4 separate regions of the Homo sapiens genome follow, and regions 1, 3 and 4 are each reported to be linked to region 2. The links are microRNA targets in miRTarBase. Many come from high-throughput screens and were not tested one by one. Region 2 holds a microRNA gene; each other region holds the end of a gene's coding sequence.

Region 1 (4,061 bases), not on the chromosome of region 2:
AACAACTGCCCGGCCATCATGAATGCCCTGATCGAAGCAGGGGCCCACATGGACGCCACCAATGCCTTCAAGAAGACGGCCTACGAGCTGCTGGACGAGAAGCTGCTGGCCAGGGGTACCATGCAGCCCTTCAACTACGTGACCCTGCAGTGCCTTGCGGCCCGGGCCCTGGATAAGAACAAGATCCCTTACAAGGGCTTCATCCCGGAAGATCTGGAGGCGTTCATCGAACTGCACTGACCTGCCCAGAACGCCTGCACCCTCACCTCTCCCCTCTCCTGCTGAGATGGGGGAAATCCGGCTGCGGCATAGCAGATGCTCGTTCTTGCCTCCTTCAGGCACCAATCAGGAGAAGGGTTCTGCCTCCCATCCCCTCTACCTGCAGACAGGGTCGGAGGTGTTAGCGAGCCTTTGGTGCTAGAAGCCTGCGGGGTCATGTGCTAAGAGGACAGTCTTTCTCCGGGAGCCCGCTCACTCATTCTGAGTTAGGAAAAGACACAAGACCTTCCCCACATCCTGTCTGCCTGGGTTAGGGAGGCCTTTGCCTTGTTACCTAGAGGCGGAGGGACTGAAGCCATTGCGTTCCTTCCCTGCTAGAAACACAGGAAGAAGTTGAGGACTGTCTGCCTTCCCTCGTCCCTTTACCTGGCCAGATAACTCCAGCCGCTGAATACAGTGTTAGGACTGGGGGCTCCTGAGATGAGAGTTTGAGATTCAGGGAATGAGACCACCTCTCATTTCTTCCAGCATGATCGCGCCCTGCTCCCGTGCCACCGTAGTCCCTGGCAGACAGGCAGGGCTCTGCCCAGGGCAGCCTGCCACTTGCATAGCTTTCGGTTGGTTTGGTGTTCTGTTTATTTAATAAGTGGGCAGGTTGCAAGCGTTGCACAGAAATTCTGAGATTTTACTGCCTTTTTTTTTTTTTTTAAGAAAGTTGTTTGTTGGACTCCATAAGTGAATTTCAAGCAGTGAGGATTTTGTGGTGCCTGAGATGGCCGAGGGCACAGGGAGTGAGCTGTATGTGTGAGGAATTTGGTGAGCGAGATAAAAGTCCACGGTGTCAACCCCTAAAACATGGGTGACCGTACATTTTTATACATCTCCACTCTACGGCCTTTTACAGGCTTTCCGATTTTACAGGCCTTTCCAAGTTTCCATTCTCCTTAGAGAGAGAACTGTGCTTCCAAACAGAAATCAGGAGTGACCACAAAGCCTGAAAACACTTTGCCACCCAGCAAAGAACTGGCACAATTGGTTTGGGTCTGCATTGCCATAGTGCCCGAGTTAAAACTGCAGGCCACTCTGCCTTGCAGTGGCCTCTGATTTCATTGTGGGTGCATCCACAGGTGGCCCGAGCTGTTCTTTCAGCTGCTCCAAGGATTGAGACCCAAGTCATCATGAAAAAGGCCCAAGTACAGTCTTAATGCGATAAATCCACTAGCTAAGACGTCGAGTGCCAAGACCAGCCTTCCAGCCGAGGTTTGGACAAAGTCTCAGGTTCCCGTGACTCAGGGTAAGGTGCTGGGGCTGCCAGAGGACCTGCCCCAGCAAGATTTTTGTCAAGAGCGAGACTCCATCAGCCCAGGCAGACGGGAGCAGGTTCTTGGCCAGCGTAGACAGCAGCAAACAGCAGCAGGGAAGCCATTCTCACTGCATCCTCCCTGCAGTAGCCACGGCCAGGCCCTTAGGAGGAGCAGTGACCGGGGGTGTCCAGAAATATCCTGTCCCTGGATGGAAACTAGGTCTCGTTTGGATTTTTTTTTTTTTTTGCCGTGTTAGGAAATTATTTATTAATTTACAAGACAGGTTTTAACTCAGCCGAGGTGGGAAATGGTGTCCCTGTCCCTCCCAAAGCACAGAGCACAGAAATGAGGCCGTTTACATGGCGAGTCTCCGTGCTGGTGTTTAAGTCATTAAAAAGATACTCAAAGAGAATGGCCTGCCTGATGCGTCCTTGGCGTGGGTTAACTGGGGAAGTCGGAGGTGGGTGAGTCAGTCCATGGCATTGGTGTGAGTGAACAGAGAGCCCTAGGGCCACCTCCCCTAGCCAGAGGGGTTTCTGTGTTACATACTGGGGCTTTTTTTTTTTTTTTGAGACAGAGTCTCACCCTGTCCCCCAGGCTGGAGTGCAATGGCGCGATCTCAGCTCACTGCAACCTCTGCCTCCTGGGTTCAAACAATTCTGCTTCAGCCTCCTGAGTAGCTGAGATTACAGGCACCTGCCACTATGCCCAGCTAATTTTTGTATTTTCTGTAGAGGCAGGTTTTGCCATGTTGGCCAGGCTGGTCTCAAACTCCTGAACTCAAGCGATCCTCCCACCTCAGCCTCCCAAAGTGCTGGAATTACAAGCATGAACCACTGCACCTGGCCTCTATGTTACATACTGGGGCTTTGTGTAAAATTTCATTTGAAAAACAGTATGTTGCTCTTTGAAAAAAAGCCTGGGCAACATAGTGAGAGCCTGTCTTTACAAAAATAAAAAATAGGCTGGGTACGGTGGCTCACATCTGTAATCTCAGCACCTTGGGAAGCCTGGGCAACATAGTAAGACCTCTGTCTCTACATTTTTTTTTTTTTTTTTTTTGAGATGGAGTCTTGCTCTGTCACCCAGGCTGGAGTGCAGTGACGCCATCTCGGCTCACTGCAACCGCTGCCTCCCGGGTTCAAGTGATTCTCCTGCCTCAGCCTCCTGAGCATCTGGGACTACAGGCATACACCACCATGCCTGGCTAATTGTGTATTTTTAGCAGAGACGGGGTTTCACCATATTGGCCATGCTGGTCTCAAACTCCTGACCTTGTGATCCACTCGCCTCGGCCTCCTAAAGTGCTGGGATTATAGGTGTGAGCCACCACGCCTGGCCCTTTTTTGTTTTCCTTTATCTGCCATCTCATCTCACCTCCTTGTGTAAACTTGTTCCATTCTAAAATTCTGGTTTTCTCCATATCAGAACAGTCAAACCCCCACCAGAAAGCACCACCCCGTTAGCTGGGTCCATGGGATTTTGCTGAGCCCCTGCCATGTGCCAGGCAGGTTTCAGGCCCCCTTGGGGATAAGGATTGAGCTGTCGATATGAACGTCCGGTTAATCCCTGTGCGCCCGCCTCACGTGGCAGTGGGGAGAGGCCCTGCTGTGGGGCACCGCATGCTGCTTCCATGGTGCATTGGGTTGGAGGGCTCTTCTCCCGAGGGTGGGTGTCTCCCATCTCTTGCCTTCACACACCTGCTGTCTTGTTTCATTTGGGACTGGACAGTCCCACAGGTGACAGCTGTTGGGCTGTTGTATGCCTGTTTGGTGTTGCATCAAAGGAGTGGGTTTGAATCAGCAGGTGCTCTCAAAGCTGTCTCCTGGGAGACACAGTACTAGTGAGCATTTATTGAGCACCTACTGTATGCCAGGCACCATTTTCTGTGGTTAAATGCACTGCCTGTTTACACAACAGCCCTCTAAAGGAGGAAAAACATATCAGAGTCCCATGGATGGAAGAAAAATAATGAAGTAGGAAAAACGGCCCTCTTAAGATGAAGGTCATCTTTTTTTTTTTTTTTTTTTTTTTTTGAGACGGAGTCTCTGTCGCTCAGGCTGGAGTGCAGTGGTGTGATCTCGGCTCACTGCAAGCTCAGCCTCCCGGGTTCACACCATTCTCCTGCCTCAGCCTCCCGAGTAGCTGGGACTACAGGCACCTGCCACCATGCCCGGCTAATTTTTTGTATTTTTAGTAGAGATGGGGTTTCACCGTGTTAGGATAGTCTTGATCTCCTGACCTCATGATCCGCCCACCTCGGCCTCCCAAAGTGCTGGGATTACAGGCATGAGCCACCGCACCCGACCAGATGAAGGCCATCTTAAAGCTCAACCAGTTTCAGGTGAGGGCTGATCCAGCAGATCCCAATTATTCCTAAAGACCTGGTTGATAGCTCCCTTGAGACTGGGGTGGGGTGGGTGTCCCAAGATGACCGCCAGCAGAAAAGAGAGCATCTTTCTCCCAGTCAAAAGCCAAAGTAGGACCTATCTAAAGTAAGTCCTGGCCGGGCACGGTGGCTCACACCTGTAATCCCAG
Region 2 (4,067 bases):
CCACCAGCACGCACGTTCACACACACCCTCATTCTCCAGGCAGGCAGCACTTCCTGAACTGCGGTGTGCCGTTGAGAGAGGGTGAAAGCCCCAGTGGCAAATGAGATGGGATTTCTGTTTAGAGTCATAAATTGTTTCATAGAAATATTTGAATATTTGTTAGAAGAGGTACCCAAAACAACTCAGGCAGCCTGGTGCCCGCATGTTTTGGGTAGTGGCCAGAGTCCCCTCTCAAGCCTGCTAGTCCATTCCCCACCCCCTATCCTACTTCCAGACTTGGTAAGTAGGTAGTTTTGGCAATCAGACAGACTTGGTTAAGCCTAGCTTCTGTCACTAGCTGTGTGACACTGGACAAGTAATTGTACCTGACTTCTCTGAACCTGTTTCTTCATCGGTAAAATCATGCACTTCTTTACAGGAGTTGTCAGGAAAATGCAATGAAAGAATAAGGTGAGGGTGGTTTTCAAATGATGACCTGGAGAACCGTAAATCAGACAATCCAGTGTTTGCCAAACTTCATTCACATCCCATCTTCCCAACCTCTGACAAATTTGTGGACCACCTCTACTTCTGTTTACTTAATCTTGTTCTTTAAAAATTATCAACTCACGTTTTGATGGAACTAGGTGTATTCAAAAGGAAACTTTAACCACTGCCATAAATGAGAAATTATCATGTACCCAAGAGTGGTAAAAATAGATACAATAAAACCAAAACAATGCTGTTCAGTTCTAGCTGGCTATGATTATAGGCCAGGGCTCTGAGCTCAAGGAGTTGATTTTGTTAAAAACAACAACAAAAAGGTTATCTCAGTCAAAAAAGGCCACATAAAGCCCTAATATGAAATGTCCAAAATAATCAACTCTATAGAGACAGAAAGTAGATTTGCAGTAGTCTAGAGCTGTAGTGGGAGGAAGGCTTGGGAGTTACTGTTAATGGGTATGGTTTCTTTTAGGGGTAATGAAAATGTTCTAAAATTGACTGTGGTGATATTTGCAAAACTGTGAAGATACTAAGAATCATTGAACTGTACACTTTAAATGGGTGAGTTGTATGGTGTGTGAGTCATCTCTCTCAGTAAAGGTGTTATTTTAAAATACGTATATATGGGCCGGGTGTGATGGCTCAGACCTGTAATCCCAGCATTTGGGGAGGCTGGGGCAGGCAGATCACTTTTGAGCTCAGGAGTTCCAGACCAGCCTGGGCAACATAGCAAAACCCTGTCTCTACTAAAAATACAAAAATTACCCAGGCATGGTAGCAGCAGCCTGTAATCCCAGCTACTCGGGAGGCTGAGGCAGGAGAATCGCTTGAACCTGGGAGGCGGAGGTTGCAGTGAGCCGAGATCGAGTCCCTGCACTCCATCCTGGGCCACAGAGCTACACTGTCTCAAAAAAAAAAAAAATTGTACAGATATATATACACACACACACATATAGAAAAATTATATAATTTTTCCTCCTCTCTCTATATACATATATATATAGATATATGTATACACACACACACACACACACAGAGGAAGGTATAGGTGTCAAACCTTTTTTTTTTTTTTTGAGACAGATTCTTGCTCTGTGGCCCAGGCTAGAGTGCAGTGGTGCGATCTTGGCTCACTGCAACCTCTGCCTCCCGGGTTCAAGGGATTCTCCTGCCTCAGCCTCCCGAGTAGCTGGGATTACAGGTGTGTGGCACCACATCCGTCTAATTTTTGTATTTTTAGTAGAGACAGGGTTTCACCATGTTGGCCAGACTGGTCTTGAACTCCTGACCTCAAGTGATCTGCCCGACGTGGCCTCTTAAAGTGCTAGGATTACAGGCGTGAGCCACTGAGCCCAGCCTAAATTCAATTATTAAACTCCTTGAGTTAATTAAAGGGTAGCCAGGTGCGGTGGCTCATGCCTGTAATCCCAGCACTTTCAGAGGCCGAGGCAGGAGGATCGCTTGAGCCCAGGAGTTCCAGACCAGCCTGGACAACATAGCGAGATCCTGACTCTACAAAAAACAGAAAAATTAGCCGGGCGTGGTGGCGCGTGTTTGTAGTCCCAGACACTCCTGAGGTTGAGGTGGGAGGATCACCTGAGCCCTCGGGAGGTCGAAGCTGCAGTGAGCGGAGATCGCACCGCTGCACTCCAGCCTGGGGGACAGTGAGGCGGTCTCAAAACAAAACAAAAACAAAAGGGGAGGGCGGGGGGAAGACTTAAAGACCCCTGAGCCAGGGCCATTATTATTTAACTTGGTCGGGTCTCTGAACCATTCGGAGGAAGCTTGGGTTTCTATCCTTCCCGACTGAGCCACAGACCTGAGTCTTGACTCCGGATAAATCACCCCAGACTGTTTTTCTGTCTGTGACACGGGAACGGCAGCTTCTGCCTCGCGAGGTGGAGAGAGAATGAGAAGCGCCGTGTGTGGCGCGCCTGACACGGTCAGCTCGCGGGTGGAGGCCCGGAGCAGAACGCCCTCGGGCGCCCGCTCTTGCAGCCGCACTGGAGACCGGGAATGGCTCCGGCCACGCCTCTGCCGACTGCGGCAACGCGAGGGACAGCTGGTCTCCGGGGTTGCAGCGTAACGCCCTCCTTCCCGGCCTCATCTTTCCTGACTGCATAACGGGCATACAGTGGGTTCCATGGCGCAAGGGAGCTGAAGAAGCCGCCCGCCCCCAGCTCGCCCGGGATCCTCACGCCCCTATAACGCCCCGAGGGGCCACGATGCTGCCCACAGCCCAGATCGCGAGTGCGGACCCTGCGGGAGGGTCTGGCCTAGATGCGAGTTTCCCGCCGCAGACCAGGCGAGGCCACGCGACATATCCCCTACCCGCTTACTGCAGGCCGCAGACGGAGACAGTGCAGCCCTGCGCACTGCTGAGGTTGCCCGAGGTCTCAGCCTCGGCGGGTCGGGAACACGCGGCGCGCGCCCGCGCCCCAACCGGAAGTCCGCCACCGGCCGCTCTAGCACGCGCAGGGCTGCGTCTGTGGCCTTAACCCTTCCCAAGGCTGCGCCGCCGGCCTTTGTCTCCGCGGAGCGTCACAAAGGTTGGAAGGGTCGCGGGGCCTCTGGGTGCCGAGCTGCAGATGCCTCCACTGCGAGCACAGCCCTGAGACAAGGGCCCAGGCGCCCAGCGGGGCTGGTTTCACTCAGTCCAGCCGCACCTACCCGTGCCCTCACCAGATCTTAAGATACAGACATTAAAACCTCCACCGGGCCGCGGCACAGGACAGCAGTTTTACTTTCTGTTTTTGGCATTGCATTGCCTCCATTTCCTAGAGTGCACGTAATAAATACCGCTGGTGATTCCAAAATATAAAGGTTGAAAATATTTACTTTACAAAAATTTGGTTCCCATACTGCTTTTAAGGCCATCCTCTGCACTTGGTTCCCGCTGCTCCTGATGTGGTTGAAAGATGGATGACCCCAAAGACGAGGAAAAGATTATTGGCTCCATTTTTTAGATGCGGCAGCCAGCTAAGGTCTAGACAGGGGAAGGGACTTGCCCCAAATCACAGTTAGAGCAAATCAGTCTGAATCAGGAATAACTCCATTCCTATCCCGCATCCTGCCCTTTCACTACGCCACAGCTGCCTGGCTGCCTGGAGGAACAAAGGAGGGCCGGGCAAGAACGCCATTACCAACTGCAAATCCACAGGCAAATGCAAGAGGACAGAAAGTAAGTTCTTGGGCTCTGCCCTTGTGCCGTACCCGGAGGGGTTCTGGGGTCACCAGCCAGGTGCATCCCTGCCTTCACAGCCATGCACAGCGACACCCAGTTAACTAATGGGGGGGATTATGCCACTTGCTGGGTATGCCTGTGCCACCAGTGCACTCACTCTGTGCCTGGGGAAATAACCACGGATGAATCTGGGGATCCCCTGGGCCCACTGTGAAATGGACCTGAGCTAAAACTCCATTGATCACAGGACCTCAGGGATCTTTTGGGTCTCGAGAACAGAATTGGATGCTACAGGAGAAATGTAACCAGAAAAGGATTAGGATTTTGCCAGTAGAGAAAGGGAGATGTGCTTGCTTTCATTCATTTATCATTAATGAGCACCTACTGTATGCCAGGCACCACA
Region 3 (4,061 bases), not on the chromosome of region 2:
CACGCGCTCCTGATGCGGCACCGCGCCCTGAGCATCGAGAACAGCCAGCTCATGGAACAGCTGCGGCTGCTGGTGTGCGAGAGGGCCAGCCTGCTGCGCCAGGTACGTCCGCCGAGCTGCCCGGTGCCCTTCCCCGAAACGTTTAATGGCGAGAGCTCCCGGCTCCCCGAGTTTATCGTGCAGACGGCGTCTTACATGCTCGTGAACGAGAACCGATTCTGCAACGACGCCATGAAGGTGGCATTCCTAATCAGCCTCCTCACCGGGGAAGCCGAGGAGTGGGTGGTGCCCTACATCGAGATGGATAGCCCCATCCTAGGTGATTACCGGGCCTTCCTCGATGAGATGAAACAGTGCTTTGGCTGGGATGACGACGAAGACGACGACGACGAAGAAGAGGAGGATGATTATTAGGCCCTCGACCCTCGGGCCTCGGGGGGGAGGGCCCTGCACGCCGCCACCCCCTCCCCGCAGCCCTCACCCCGCCAGGAGCCACTGCTCTCCCCCTTGCCCTCCGGTCCCCTTACCTACCCGCGCCCGTCTGCTCTCTCTCTTCATTTCTCCGTAGTGCTTGTCTTTGTTCCAGGAATAGCGCTCCAGTTACCTGCTGCTGGGGTCGGGGCTGGAGCCTCACTCACTCGGAAGTGCTTGGAAGTGTCATCTACCCTGGCCATCCCCGGGATCCCTCCCCTGCTAATCTGAACTGTGTCCTGAACCCCAGCTATTGGCCAGGCCCCTGTTACAAACTGCGCAGACCACCCGTAGCCCTGCTGCTGCCACCTGCCCTGCTGCCAGGCTTACATCTTCCCAGAGAACTATGCTGCCACTTCACATCCACTCACCACATCCCACCTACAGACTACCACCTTTCGAGATCAGGACCAACCTGGAAAATGCCAGAGTTGGCTATGCCTTTTCAGACATTGATTTGGACAGCTCACCAACCCCTGAAGGGGCCGTTCAGCCTGGTTAGTTTTCTACCTACTCCGAGTGTCCTCCCCTGCCCCACCAGATTGCTGCAGGGGCGCGGTGTGCCTGGCAGCCAAATTGTTGACACTTCTTTTTTCCTATGCACTGGTTTTACACAGCTGTCATTTTTCTTTCAAAATTGCAGCAGTCCCACAGATGTGTGCATTTGGACAAATAGTACTTAAAAACAAAACAAACAAGCACTCAGCCCAGCTCCTCAATACTACCTGGAAAAAGCATTGGCATTATTTTCAATAAATATCAAGCACTAAAAAAAGAAATGATTGTCTTTTAATGGTTAAGTGCTATCACTGGCCTCTACCACTGTCACTCTGACTACCATTATTCCCGTGGAAATCAGGGAATACAACCAATCCTAGTATTCCCCGCTGTCATCTCCAGGCTGCTGGGGACAGCTACCTCAGGGCTTTGTCAGGGTTCTGATGCTCCCTTCACCAACGCATTTCTTAAAGCCCTGGCAAAGGGTGTGTTCTCTGGGTCCTCCAGGGTGGCGTGGTTAAGGGTTGGCTGAGCAGACGGCAAAGAGAGCAGTATTAATAATTAGACCATAACAATAGGCGTAAACCTGGACATATATATGTAATGCTCCTAATTCTCTGAGCTTTTGGATTCCTTAACACTGTGCCAGGGAAGTTCTGCCCCTTAATCCTTATTGCCTATGTGCAGCTGTTGAGTTCAGACTCCAGAGAGCCAACATAGTAGATTGTCACTTTCAAACTCCAAATAGCCAACATGTCACTTTCAGGTGCTCCAGCTAACATTAAGTCCCGGATCCTGGGCAAGTGCACCCATAAAGATATAGCCTGATCTTAACAAACATTTCGTTCTCCTTGGACAGACATCCTTAGAATTCCCACTCATAGATGTGTCCCAGATTCCTCCCTATGGAAATTAGCAAGATGCTTGGTTATCTCTTAAATCAGACCTTGTACTGCTATCTAGGGGCTATGCTGAGATCTCTGGGCCTGGAGGGTTCAGAGCAGTGAAGGGGGTGGCTGCTGAGAAGAAGCTGCATACCTGTGTGAGGCCATTGCTCCAGGTTAAGTCATTGAAATGTTTAATGCAGAGCAGCTTGGTTGGGGATTTGAGAGGACTGCCTCTTAGAAAGGTTTAGGAGGATATGAGGGGTTCAGAGTTCTCTTTTATATCTGTCCAGATGTCCTCATTGTACCATGTCTGGAGCCAACTTGACTTTATAACCTTTAATTAATTTAGATAACACATTTCCGTACTGTTTAAGGCCTTTTGAGGCAAGATATTGTATTTGTACTGGTAAACCTCAGTGTTGATTAAATGAGATATGGGTCTTCATATTAATCACCTCATAGGTGCGGATTAAATGAGATCATACCCATGAAGCATTTAGAACTTTCCCTGCTACATGGTGAGCACTCAGCAAACCATGGGCTGTTACTCCTGGGCCAGGGAACAGAAGTCTCAGAAAGCAAGTCTCTGACTCTGAGCCTGGCTTTAGTAGGAAAATGTCAGCGTGAAGAGGAGCAGAGCAGGTTCAGGGAGAATGGAAATGAGAGCATGATAAGACCCCATTTACTTTTTGGAGTCTTATATGAAGCAAGAAACAAAGCTGTTTTACGTGGTGGACAGGCAAAGTTCAGGGTAGGAGTTATATCTCACCCCTAGGATAGCTGTTTCTGGAGGGTGGGGACAGGGTTGCGTATGACTTAATAAAAGAGGCTGAGGCTTGGGTGGAAATGAGATCTGGGGCTCTTCAGGGAGCTGCCGCCTCCAAATCTGAATCAAGGAGACAGCTGGTTATTTAGAATTCATTGATCACTTCTCCCAGTCTCCTTGGAAAATATACAAAACCCCTTGGAAGAGAGAGATTATATTTGAGACATAATATGTGTGAGGCCAGATAATTACACTTTCTTCCTAACTAGAAAGGCCTTGAATTGGGGATAAATGTGGAAAAGTGAGCAAGATCTAAAAGGTAAAGGATCCAGTGAGACCAAAAGTCATTTATTCCAAACTGATTATGGCCCAGTTATGCTGAGTGGAGTTACAGAAACATCTTTGAATAAAATGTGATCTCTGCCTTCATAGCGAGTCCAGTCTGCTGCTTTTACTGTGCCCTGGGTCAGAACTTTGATGATTAGTTACAGGAAAGGGCCAGGAAGAGAATCTGGGCTGTGATTAGATCTGGGAATGACCTTTCTGGGGTGGAAGTTGAGGACATATGAGTAGGTGTTCTGTGGAGGAAGGGAGGTTCAGTAAGGATGCCATGCCAAGGCAGCATCTGAATGGCATCTGGGAGAACTAGGCCAGGGAGCTTCTGTGATCTGAAGTGTACATTTCCTGAGTATGTGTGCATGTGCACATGAGCTTGCTGTGACCCAGTATGTGTGTGCTCTGTGTGTGTGTGTGTTAAGTGATGTCCTTCTTACATCATGGACAAACAGGTTATGCTGTGAGATGCAGAAAAGGGATTCTGGTTACTTTGGGGGCAGATTCTGCAATAAAAGCGCAGATACTGGCAAGGGCTCCACCACCCAGGGAGGAATTCATGATAATGGCATAAAGCATGGCAAAAAAGAAGGAAGAAGTAGAAGTATGTCTAAGGATAAAAGTGCCACTTTGATCAAAACTATTAAAAATAGGTAGGAATGCTGAATAAATATGAACTTAGACCCTGAATTCTCATTTTGGGCGTAATAGACTTGAAATGGCCGCTGAAATTATACTATCAATGAAATGAAATTAGTCATATTAAATGTCGTAATCATTTAATCGTATTAAATATACCAATATATCTTTGGACTCTTCTATTCATTTGAATAGATAAGCACTGCCATCTATTAAGTCCGTGTTGCTGTATCCTGCAGAATGGTATATAAAGCTAGAGGTACTTTATGCACATGTATATTTGATTATTTTCTGCTATTAAAGCATGGCTAAAACCTCAGTAATTTGGAAGTAGGCAGATTAGAGGGAGAAGTCTTGTTGAAGTTAGTGGGATATTTGCATAAAAATGCGCTTAAATTTTTTTCTTGTTTTTTTGTTTTATTTTGTTTTGTTTGTTTTGTTTTTTTTGTTGTTGTGTTTTTGTTGTT
Region 4 (4,061 bases), not on the chromosome of region 2:
CTGCTGGGAAAATTTAGGGTAGAGCACTCTTTACAGAAGAACTCAAAAACCCAATTTGGATAATTTTCATTATCTTTTTAGCAAAATGGTTTCTTAATGTTTATATTTTATTTTCAAGGTTCATTGTTTAATGAAATATTTTATTCTTGCATTTCCATAAGGAAAGGGAAAGTCATGATCATCCTAAAGGATCACAGTTTTTAAAAGGCAAACATTTTCCCTAAGGAAACAGACACAAGCTTTCCTAGAGAATATGATGTTTTTTAGGCATTAATAAGGTCCTTTTTTATAAAGGACACTTTTCTCCTAGTAGTTTTGAATTCAGGAACAGATCCAAAGTTAGCAGTATATGGCTGCTACATTTCCATTTTCATTTTCGAGCCATCAGTTTATGTTCAGATGCCATCTCTGTAATCGCACATTTAAAACATAACTGTAGCCTCACTAATGGAAAAGTAGTATGATGAACAATCATTCCCAATGGTGTACAATGTAAGGGTTTTAGGGAGCAACAGTATTTAACTGGAAGAAAGAATTGCATATTTAATGTAGTCTAATATATACACATTTGTTTAACATGTAAACAAAAGTGTTAAATTCACATATACAACATTATACAATTTAATCACTCTTGGAATAAAATTTTTATAGCCTTTTTTCTATTGGGAAAATTTGTTTAGATGTGTGCCACTCCATAGGTTTATTTCCAAAATGAATGAGCCCAACTCCATTTGTAAAAACTTGTCAGTTAGAATTCCTTTTTTTAGTGGATTAGGGCTGAATTCTTAGATCCTTATTTCTTTTCACTTTAAATGCTGCCAAAGATCACTACTCATCATTCAGGAATTCGCTGTCTAGCCTATCTGTAGTTTCCTGAAGATTGAAAATTATGTAGACTGCTATTTAAAAATATATTTTTCTAAGTGTGAGGTTTAAGATGCTGTATTGACCCTATGAGTTTTTAATGTGTTAATTATCTTTATAGCATAATAGATCGCTTTAGGTTCCTGGAATCCCATTTGGTCTGACAGGATATATGAAGATTCTTAATACCTATTTTCTGTGTCTAATACTTGGTTAATACTAAAAATAGAAATGACTAAATTACATCACAGAAAGCATAACCAGTGATTGAACCTGGTAGTTTTAAAGCTCTAAATAGCTGTGGCTGAAGGACTGATTATGGGGCTAAGAAGCTTGAAACGTAAGTTGGTACTTGTTCATCAGTGGATTCTCCTAAATTAAGCCAAATTTTGAAATACATGACTATTAAGTTTCTACTCATGTATTTACAGTCAGTCAATAAATTAAAGGAGGAAAAAAATCCCTGAACAACCTGCCCATAAAAAGAAAAATACTCTACATTTGAGCCTGCTGCAGTTTTAAATTTTCCCTCTGGGTCAAGTTTGCCAGCTTTTGGCTACAGAGAAATTATATTTCCATTACAGTGCAGGTAGAAACTCTGTAACCTTAAGCATGTAAACTACATAGAATAAAACTGTTTCCACTGCATTTCTGTCCTTCAAAGTGGCCAACCTGATTAAGTCAGCCTTAATCACTGCTGCTGTCAGTTTCACGACTAAAGGTCATATTGACTAAGTAGTCATCAGCTGACCACCTCGCTGTATCAGCCAGCAACGAGGGGAAGGTGAAGAAACATGATAGGCCATATAGAATCTGCCCTATGTTTACTTTTTTAACCCAGATAATTATTTTTGTGTGCAGTATCTAAGCTCCTGATTGTGTAACCTGGGACTTCTGGCACCTTTTGTTCCATTCATTTTATGTATAAAATGCATGCCAAAGCACACTGTGCCCTCTGGTACCCTTGCTTCCAATCGCCAACCATGCTCATTTCCTTCCTTTTTTTGTGGTCCCTTTTTGTGGTGATCATTTTAAACCACGTCATCCAACAAATGTTTTATGGTCAACCTTAGCTTGTTCATAAGCCATAGCAACTGAAAGATTAAACTCTTAAATATGTGTCTGGGCAGTGGCTATTAAATAGCAAAAAACAATCAGATTTTAGTATTTTATTATTTCCTTGTAAAATGGCTGAACTAAATTAAACCCTTGTTTCCCATTTGTTCTATAATTTATAGTGAAACTGAGAACAAAACTATCTTTATAAATGATAGCTAAAAGTATTTCCAGATATTTAAACAATTTAAAATAAATTTCTTCTGCAGAGATGCAAAGCATCTCAACACTGGAATGAACAAATGCCTTAAATTCAATGGAGTAAACCTTTAGAATGAAGAGGAACTGTCATTTCACCCAAGCCGAAGACAACAGCCTTATGCACTTGTGTGCTCTGTCTTTGCTGCTTCTCGTGTTTCAAGCCTTTCCTGTGGGATCAGCACAGCAAAGTGCAACTTACCAAATGGTTTAATGACTGGTTAATTCTTTCTTCTCCCAATGGAAAAGCAATGGCAACACAACAGTAGACTGCTGGCTTGACAATCTTAAACGTGAGCCTTTGCACATGTAGGTTTATCATCATTTGAGTATACGACTAAGCAAGTCAATGAACTTTTTTTTTTTTTTTAGCAGTTTAATTTGGTCCTGAGAATGTTGCAGTCTTTATTACCCCTTTTGCATTAATCCACTTTTCTAACCACCTTTTAAGCTTTAATTTTTAACACTATACACCAAGTCTTTGAAATCAGTGATCTGTTATTTAACTCTAAAGCATTTGACACTTCTTGCCTTAACAGTTTTAAAAACCACACACAAAAAAACTCTGTAAGTAATACAGTAGGCCAAAAGTTTCATCCTATCTATCTTGCAGTTTACCTATCTGATCTGATCTCTGTAATTATAGTTCTGTCATTTAAAATATACTATTTAAATCTAATTTTTACATTTCAAAAATTATCTTCAGTAGTAACTAAGTATATTTTCTGTGGATTCTGAGAATGTTATTTTTCAGAATGTGAGAATATATATGTACATTTATAATCTTGTGACTTTAAAGTCTGTTTTCAGATACAGTATGTAAATACTTGTAAAAAAATTTGTATAATTTTGTGATAATGTAGTTTCCCAAAAAAATTATTTAGAAGGCATTATGTTATTAGTAAATGAGAGCACTGTATAGAACTGTTCCTATTTTCTGCACTTGCCATTCCAGCTGCCTCCACTGTCCATACCCACCTCATTCATCCTGTCACAGAAGGCAGGAAAACTGGGAACTTTACCAAAGTAGCACTCAGCCTGAGAGGCCTGTATAATCATGCTTTTCAAACTAAATTCACTTAAAAATTAAAAAGCAGAATTGAATATTTTAAGCAGCCTCAGTACCTTTGGCCAATGCTGTTTTCATGGTGGATTATGAACATTATATAATCTTTGGGAAAAGTGAAAGTAGTACAATTTTTAGAATAATGACAACTGCCTCACTGCATCTCTCCACTCACACAGCAACCGTGTAGCCCCCTAAGCTGCAGTACCATGACTAACCATGATGTCAATTTCATATGCTGATCCTCACAACAGCAGTGCACAAACATGCCCCAAATATTTTAACAGAATTTAGCTCTTCCTTAAGCTGTCTTTTCATAGTAAAAACAAAACAAAAACACCCAATGTTAAAACCACATAATAAACTTACAAACTTGAAAAATTAGACACTTCAGATAGATAGGCAATAAAACTTCATATTATGAAAGCAATATATTCCAAGTTTCAAAGATTTGACAAGTTCTGTAGAGTATCTTTCATCAGTACATGAAAACTTCCAAACTGCATGATCTTCTGCCAGGCAGGACTGGGTGCTATTCGCTGAATGAACAGAACCAAAAATTGTTTTAATTATCTGCTTTGTATCCATATATACCATATATCTCAGTTTAAAAAGTTGACTAGTTTTAAGCAATAAATATTTGGTCATAAGATTACAATATAAATGGCAGATTTTTAAAAATAATTCAATTATGTCAGGTAGATAAAAGATAATACCATATGTAATTAAATTTTCTGGCCACACTAAAATATTTTGAAACTTCCTTTCAGTATCTCCCAGTTGCTAATGTCGAAGAAAATGGATGTGAAATTCAAGT

Evidence for each region. Region 2 holds the annotated microRNA hsa-miR-4519 (CAGCAGUGCGCAGGGCUG, at 2,844-2,861, opposite strand). A microRNA usually pairs through its seed, bases 2 to 8, with sites in the 3' UTR of a target mRNA and lowers its output. Matches are read on the target gene's strand: a 7mer-m8 pairs with bases 2 to 8, a 7mer-A1 pairs with bases 2 to 7 and ends in A, and an 8mer does both.
Region 1: miRTarBase lists FEM1A as a target of hsa-miR-4519. The part of its 3' UTR that is shown has no 7-base or 8-base seed match.
Region 3: the mRNA of LDOC1 is a reported target of hsa-miR-4519. Seed matches in the 3' UTR shown: 7mer-m8 at 494-500 and 7mer-A1 at 1,921-1,927.
Region 4: miRTarBase lists ZC3H14 as a target of hsa-miR-4519. Seed matches in the 3' UTR shown: 7mer-m8 at 3,497-3,503, 7mer-A1 at 2,548-2,554 and 7mer-A1 at 341-347.

The regions. Positions count from the first base shown.
Region 1 is chr19:4,793,625-4,797,685 of GRCh38, forward strand. FEM1A (fem-1 homolog A) reads left to right here. Exons shown (of 1, transcript NM_018708.3): 1 at 1-4,061. The coding sequence ends at 240. Among named protein-coding and RNA genes, the nearest start is that of FEM1A, 3.9 kb to the left of the region's middle.
Region 2 is chr16:30,872,458-30,876,524 of GRCh38, forward strand. MIR4519 (microRNA 4519) reads right to left here and starts at 2,866; the gene lies at 2,809-2,866. MIR762HG (MIR762 host gene) reads left to right here and starts at 3,003. Exons shown (of 3, transcript NR_110942.1): 1 at 3,003-3,029; 2 at 3,573-3,661. It also overlaps a transcript of BCL7C not described here. RefSeq lists enhancers at 1,531-2,286, 2,287-3,041, 2,576-2,835, 3,042-3,796, 3,106-3,315 and 1 more and a silencer at 3,716-3,775.
Region 3 is chrX:141,172,934-141,176,994 of GRCh38, reverse strand. It overlaps LDOC1 (LDOC1 regulator of NFKB signaling), which reads left to right. Exons shown (of 1, transcript NM_012317.4): 1 at 1-3,760. The coding sequence ends at 414. Among named protein-coding and RNA genes, the nearest start is that of LDOC1, 2.2 kb to the left of the region's middle. RefSeq lists an enhancer at 302-801.
Region 4 is chr14:88,611,467-88,615,527 of GRCh38, reverse strand. ZC3H14 (zinc finger CCCH-type containing 14) reads right to left here. Exons shown (of 17, transcript NM_024824.5): 17 at 1-3,783. The coding sequence ends at 3,777. EML5 (EMAP like 5) reads left to right here. Exons shown (of 44, transcript NM_183387.3): 44 at 1-3,097. Among named protein-coding and RNA genes, the nearest start is that of ZC3H14, 50 kb to the right of the region's middle.